Linked DNA regions of Homo sapiens. The protein of the gene in region 2 purifies or fractionates together with the protein of the main gene of each other region. This does not show direct contact. Each region holds a gene or a part of one and is shown on either strand. Other genes may lie near its edges.

The links.
Region 1: the proteins of SPRR2A (region 2) and ARL3 purify together in Homo sapiens (affinity purification with mass spectrometry; one large-scale study listed by BioGRID and IntAct). This does not show direct contact.

The regions. Positions count from the first base shown.
Region 1 is NC_000010.11:102,704,396-102,708,221, forward strand, and holds part of ARL3 (ADP-ribosylation factor-like protein 3), read right to left. Parts: intron 1,095-3,826; coding exon 951-1,094; intron 1-950. UniProt on the Homo sapiens protein: Small GTP-binding protein which cycles between an inactive GDP-bound and an active GTP-bound form, and the rate of cycling is regulated by guanine nucleotide exchange factors (GEF) and GTPase-activating proteins (GAP).
Region 2 is NC_000001.11:153,055,425-153,058,971, forward strand, and holds SPRR2A (small proline-rich protein 2A), read right to left. Parts: upstream 2,089-3,547; 5' UTR 2,047-2,088; intron 1,331-2,046; 5' UTR 1,312-1,330; coding exon 1,093-1,311; 3' UTR 696-1,092; downstream 1-695. UniProt on the Homo sapiens protein: Gut bactericidal protein that selectively kills Gram-positive bacteria by binding to negatively charged lipids on bacterial membranes, leading to bacterial membrane permeabilization and disruption.

The DNA.
Region 1 (3,826 bases), on a different chromosome or scaffold from region 2:
TTGGGAGGCTGGGGTGGGTGGATCATTGAGGTCTGGAGTTTGAGACCAGCCTGGCCAACATGGCAAAACCCTGGCTCTACAAAAAAATACAAAAATTAGCGGGCCATGGCGGTGTGCGCCTGTAATCCCAGCTACTAGGGAGGCTGAGGTCCAAGAATCGCTTGAACCTGGGAGGCGGAGGTTGCAGTGAGCCAAGATTGCACTACCACACTTCAGCCTGTGTGACAAAGCAAGACTGTGTCTCAAAAAATAAATAATTTAAAGAAATAAAATAAAAATAAAAAGAATATAGGTACTCAGATCTGCTGGATTTGTCTATATACACACAAACACACACATGTGTATATATGTATACATATATTTTAAATTGTAACATAACACGTACAATATGCAGCTGCTGAGGACATGTGCGGGTGGGGAAGGTGGGGCAGAGACGGAAGAGGGGTGCATGTGCTGAAAGGTGCTGTGTGGAGGCTGAAGCCCAGTGGGATGCAGATGCTGCAGTGGGGTGGCCTGATGAAGTGGGTACTGTGAAGTGTGTCTGCGTACACATTTTAACGTTATAACATAAAACGTACCATTTCAGCCATTTTAAAGTGTACAGTTCCATGGCATTAAATACATTCACACTGTGGGCCGTTACCCACAGAACTCTTTCCATCTTGCAAAACTGACTCACTGTACCCGTTAAACAATAACTCCCCATTCCCCCTCCCCAGCTCCAGTAACCACCATTCTGCATTCTGTCTCTATGAATCTGACTACTCTAAATACCTCATGAGAATGGAATCTCTTACATATTTTTGAAATCTGGTTATCTTTAGATTGTATAGACTTTTCTCAGAGACAAAACTTGGAAGTGGACAAAACTGTATTTCCCATTTTGTCTTTCACATTGCTATTATCGTCTTCCTGTGTCACACGGCATCTGGAGCCAAGGCAGTGCTCACCTGTGTAGGTGTGATGTGGCTGATGTCTTCAGATGCAAGCTGCTTCAGAAGAGTGGTCTTGCCAGCATTATCCAAGCCCAGGAGAAGTATTCTCACCTCCTGGTCTGGTGCACTTTTCAACTTGCGCAAAATTGAGAGCAAGCCCTTCAACAACCACAAAGGAGACAGATTACTCTGGGGGCACTGACTGTGATATTAACTGGATATGAGAATAACTTCTCCTTGAAAAAAGTTATTGGTTATGGAGAGCTTATGTTATTATTTTTCATTCTAATGCCACTTATTCCATTTGCTTCCTCTTTCCAAGTTTCGGTAGAAGTGCTACAGTAAATTCAGCAACTTAATAAGTAGCAGGGCTTATTTCTGCTCCTCCAATCAATCTAGCTTAGCAGTCACCCCAAATCTCCTGGGAGTGTGAACTCTACCCCATCTGTGTTCCTAAAGCCCTTTACATACACTTAGAGCAGAACATTCATCATATCAAACTAGGTAACTGATGTTTGTATTTTTCTCCTTTACTAAAGTTTCTCGTGGTAAGGGCTATACTTGTCCCATAATGCCTGGCACTTATCAAACAGACACTAGATAACACTTGTGGAATTAAATAGGATGACACACCCAAGTTAACACACGATTTTAAGGTGTTATACAAAAATATATAAAAAGGCTATATAAAATTATAGTTGGGCTTCCTGTTAATGATTTTATCTATTTCATCATTTCACATTGCATGCCTGTATCAAAACATCTCATGTACCCTATAAATATATAACACCATGGACCCACAAAAATTAAAAGGAAAAAATTTTTAAAAAAGATTTTATCGCCGGGCACGGTGGCTCACATCTGTAATCCCAGCACTTTGGGAGGCCAAGGTGGGCGGATCACGAGGTCAGGAGATCGAGACCATCCTGGCTAACACGGTGAAACCCTGTCTCTACAAAAAATATAAAAAATTAGTCGGGCGTGGTGGCAGGCGCTTTGTAGTCCCACCTACTCGAAATGCTGAGGCAGGAGAATCGCTTGAACCTGGGAGGCGGAGGTTGCAGTGAGCCGATATTGCACACTGCACTCCAGCCTGGGTGACAGAGCAAGACTCCGTCTCAAAAAAAAAGATTTTATCTATTTCAGCACATCTTCAAGACTTCTTCATTCAAAATGTTCTACTATCATCTTTCACAAGACCCTACAGGATAGGTGCATGGTATAGATAATCTGTGTTTTTTAGATGAAAAATTTGGTACAACAGAGAAGTTAAGAAATCATAAAAGGCATCCATGAAGCAAAACAAAACAAAACAAAACAAAAACCCACCAAAATTAACCAAGGAATTTTTTACTGTTAATCTAATATTTCCCTCTGTCACCCAGGCTGGAGTGCAGTGGTGCAATCTCGGCTCAACTACAACCTCTGTCTCCTGGGTTCAAGCAATTCTTGTGCCTCAGCCTCCAGAGTAGCTGGTATTACAGGCATGTGCCACCATGCCTAGCTAATTTTTATATTTTTAGTAGAGATGGGGTTTCGCCATGTTAGCCAGGCTGGTCTTGAACTCCTGGCCTCCAGCGATCAGCCCACCTTGGCCTCCCAAAGTGCTGGGATTACAGGCCATGAGCCACCTCTCCTGGCCATTATTTATTATTTTTTATGGATAGAAATATAAAGCATGTTGCTGGGCATGGTGGCTCACGCCTATAATCCCAGCACTTTGGGAGGCCAAGGCAGGAGGGCTGCTTGAGCCCAGGAGTTCAAGACCAGCCCTGGCAACATAGTGAGACCCTGTCCCTACAAAAAATAAAAAACAAATAAGCCAGGCATGGTGGCGCAGGCCTGTGGTCCCAGCTACTCAGGAAGCTGAGGTGAGAGAATTGCTAGAGCCTGGGAGGTCGAGATTGCAGTAAGCTGTATTTGTACCACTGCACTCCAGCCTGGGTGACAGAGTGAGACTCTGTCTCAAAAAGAAAAAAAAAGAAAAAAGAAAAAGAAAACAAAGAAAAAATAAATAAACCATGTTGATTTTTAGTTAAGAACATAAGAACATCTTTATAGGAAAGTTATTTGTTCTGTGCTATAGCTGATAATCTTGTTCTAACGACACATGGCTAGAACAAGAGTCAAAGAATCCCAGAGTTTAAAGGGCATATAATTTAATCTCCCAGCCCAAGAAGAAATTCCTTCAAACTGAGTCTTAGAATTATGCAAAATGGTTGTATTTGTTATTCACATTGTACCAGGCAATAATTCAAACCAGTTTGTTCACTAAGATCAAAGGATACTTCTGAGAAATAATTCTCAACAACTGCATCTTTGGACAATCATACGCAAATATGCATAATTATTAAGAATTCCTTTCTGCCTCAGAGACTCTTTGTTTACCACTTCTAGTACTGTATCTGTACTGACTTGCTAAGGACCACATTAACCTTTCTATGCCTCAATTTTTTCCAGCAGTAAGATGGAAGGTTTAGTCTAAGCTAGACAAATTCTATGCCAAAAGATTTGGGGGACAGAGATTGAATAGATTGGAAACAAACAGAAGTCTGGCTTTTTAAAAGGCCAGACTTTTTTTTCCTTTTTCTTTTTTTTGGGGGGACAGGGTCTTCCTCTGTGGCCTAGGCTGGAATGTAGTGGCGTGAACACGGCTAACTGCAGCTTCGACTCCCTGGGCTCAAGCGATCCTCCCACCTCAGCCTCTCCAGTAGCTGGGACTACCGGCTCACACCACCACGCCCCACTAAGTTTTGTATTTTTTGTAGAGATGGGGTTTTGCCATGTTGCCCAGGCTGGTCTTGAACTCCTAAGCTCAAGCGATCCACCCAAAGGCAAGATTTTTTTTTTTGCTGTTTTTATCTCATCTGGTCTTGAATACTTTGACAGCA
Region 2 (3,547 bases):
AATGTACTGTGTTCTTCAAAATAGCTAGAATTAAAATGTTCCCAATAAAGAACAATGATAAATGCTGCAGGGGATGAATGCCCTAAATTTCCTGATATCCTGACTTGATCATTACACATTCTATTCATGTAAAAAATCACATGTATGCAGTAAATGTGTACAAGTATTATGAATCAATACAAATAACATTAGAGAGTCTTCTTATTTCCTATGTTAGTTACACCCAAGCCACTCTCTTGCTGGAACAAATATGGTAGTGGTTGTAGTGGGGAGTGATGATGATGAGGAGGAGGAGGAGGAGGATGGTGATGGTGAAAACAATGATAATATGTTGCTGCGAATACAACTCTATCAAATGACAGCTAATTACGTGTCAGGCATTGTGCCAACCAAATATCAGATAGTAATCAAATTTTATGCCTTAGACTAGTTTGTAATGTAAATGTTATTTTGCTCACTTTGCAGTAAAGAGAAGTTGTCAATTCAGAGAAGTTGAATAATATCCTCCTCAAATCAATCAAATGCTAATTAGGGAAAATAAAAGGGGTTTAAAATGATACAGAAATAATCTTTGGTATGACTCCAATTGTGAGATCCTGCTGTGAATCAAAGAAAGATTGAAATAAATCCAAAAGATTACATACTATTGCTAATAAAGCAGATTTGAAAATAAACAAAAGATCCATTCACAAATATATATGCATAGATACTTTATTCAGGGAGTGAAAGATAAGTGACAATTGCAAAGGTGGTAGAAGCTCGTGACCAGGTGACAGACAGACACAGAACACATCAACAGAATTCTCTGATGGTTCCCAGGGAGAGAGCTGCTGCTCTTTCTTCCGAAGCTCTGGGAGCTGGCACAGCCCAGGACTTCCTTTGCTCAGTCTCCACCTGGACAGTGGCAGTATGGCAGCCTCAGAAAAGAAACTTTTTGCTGTCAGGGATCATCATGGGCAGATTACTGGCTAAGGAGAAAGAAGCTCCCTGTGTATCCATGGTAGGCTTTGATGAGAAGATGAAGGTGGAGCTGTGGAACGAGGTGAGCCAAATATCCTTATCCTTTCTTGGTCCTGATGAATTCTGAAGCTGTTACTTGCTCTTCGGTGGATACTTTGACTGGCAGGGTGGGGAAGGTGTCACAGGAGGATATTTCTGCTGGCACTGCTGAGGTGGGCAGGGCTGTGGACACTTTGGTGGTGGGCAGGGCTCAGGGCACTTCGGGGGTGGACATGGCTCTGGGCACTTTGGCGTGGGGCACACAGGAGGTGGCTGGCAGGGCTGCTTGCACTGCTGCTGTTGATAAGACATCCTGCTGGAGTCTCAGGATCTGAAAGAAATGATACAACAGTGTTCGTGGGAAGGGAATCCTCCAGAGAGAGAAGCCAAAGCTTGTGTAATACCATGGCATATTATTTCTCCAATCTCCAAGAAATTATTTAAATTCTTAATTACCTTTTCAAGACTTTCTGGTTTCTCCCTTCCACTTTAACAAATTGCTTCATTGTCCCTAGGAAATCCTGTGTTTTCTCATACAATTTTTCCAAATAAATTATCTCTGTTATAAAGAATCAAGCATCTTATTTCCCTGAAAATAACCAATTCAAGAAAGGCAGTCACAAGTTCAGACACCCTGGGCAATCTAATATGCTATTCCTATCATCATTATCTGTTATAAAGTCCAAGTGGGCTGACTTGGGCATAGAGCAAAGGGCTGCTCAGGGAGAATTGTAGTCTTTCACACCTGCTAAGACACAAACCTTTGTAAAGGACACTAGAAAGACAGAGAATAAAGAAAAATACTTTGTTCTTTTTTCTTCTTCATATCAAAGGTTACCCCTTAACTTCTCTGTCCATATGGATACCTACCTGTATAACAAAAGAAAGCTAAAATAGCATATAATTGTGCTCTAATCTTAAATTTTCATCCACTAAGTAGCATCAAGTCAATTTTCATAGGATTGGATCCACCAAACTTGCCATATTCAGATTAAACTCAACATTTCAGGGCACAAAGAACAGAGGAACTCAAGGAAGCCGACTCACCAGGTTCTCCAAGGCAGATCAGTGCTCAGGTACCAGGGGTTTAAGAGTCGTGCAGCAGAGGATCTCTTTATAGAGCCTGCTACCCCACCCAGCAGGAAGTGAAACTACCCAAAACAATGCTGATCCAGTAATTTCTTAAGCCAGATGCAAATTTATCCATGACTGGCATGAGCAGGATACTCAAAATAGGAAATATCCTGTTCTGAAATCTCTCCTCTGGGTTAAGCTCTCCTGACTCACAGAAGCCATGCCTTGGATCTCAGTTTCAGTGACTTATGGCAAAGAGGGACTTGGGGGAATCTCTAACTGATGGTCAAGGGATCTCTTTCTTAATTGGGAACAAAGATATTTTCCTGTCTTACACCTTCCCTAAATCATAAAACTTCTGCCCTCATTCACTTTACCTGAATGCCTTATTGTTGTACATGAACTCAACTGTACCTCTACTTTCCTCATGCAATTTGCCAATGTGCTAGGAGGAAGGGGAGACCTAACAAAGGCCTGAGTTCTAGCTCAAGCCTTTTCTTTGCTCTGTTGTATGACCACAGGCAAGTCACTTCTCCTCCACGGAACTGTAAACAGGGAGAATAATACTTACCCCTGAGTTTGCAGGCATTGACCGCATTGTGCCACCTGATGACCCTGTTCGAGCTTGAAATTTTTTCTTCTACCTCTTTCTTTCTCTCATAAAACCCCAGATTTTACCTGTATTATCTTCCTCTTTAAAACTGTCTTCTCTAATCCATTTGTAGAGGCATTTGTCTCCCAGGATAGATTCCAAAGTGAGATCGAGTCTCCCTAGCACGTTTTCTACTTGCTGCCCTTAGGGATGTGTACTATAACTTTTTATTTATAAAAATGTACTCTTGGACACCACCTTAAGGAAGTAGAGAGAATGGAACCAAAGTTGCAAGCATTCACTCAAAATCTATGTATTGAAACTTGCCTATGTTCAATACATTTTACATACATTTTTAGTATAATTTGAATATTTTAAATATTACATAATCTCCCAAAACATTCTGTAGTGTCCTGTGAATATCCTATAGAGAACAAGCTGCATAGACTCATGTTATCATATGTAAATAATTAGAAGTAGGTTTGCAGAGTGCAGAAGTTCAGAGCACTTAAAGTCTGAAATCTAGAGGAAAATAAAAGCTAAGTGTAATCCAATATGTATTCTTGCTCTCTATTTCCAAACAGGTTTTAGGTGTTTGAAAGACAGTGTTTTAAAATTTGTTTGTATGTTCTTCCTTTGTTTTTTCCGTAGACCCTCTAGTCCCACAGTCTGCTGGATTATCAACTCACACCCCAATGTACACCTCTCATCTGTCCATTTTGGTACATATTGTTCACTTAACACATATGTTGTCAATGCATTTAGTGATTGTTCTTTCACATCTTTTTTAAGCTCTTTTACAATCATAAGGTTTTCTAAATATTGTATATTAAGCATTTAAAGTGATATTGCTAGAGCTTCCTTATCTGGACCATTAATCAG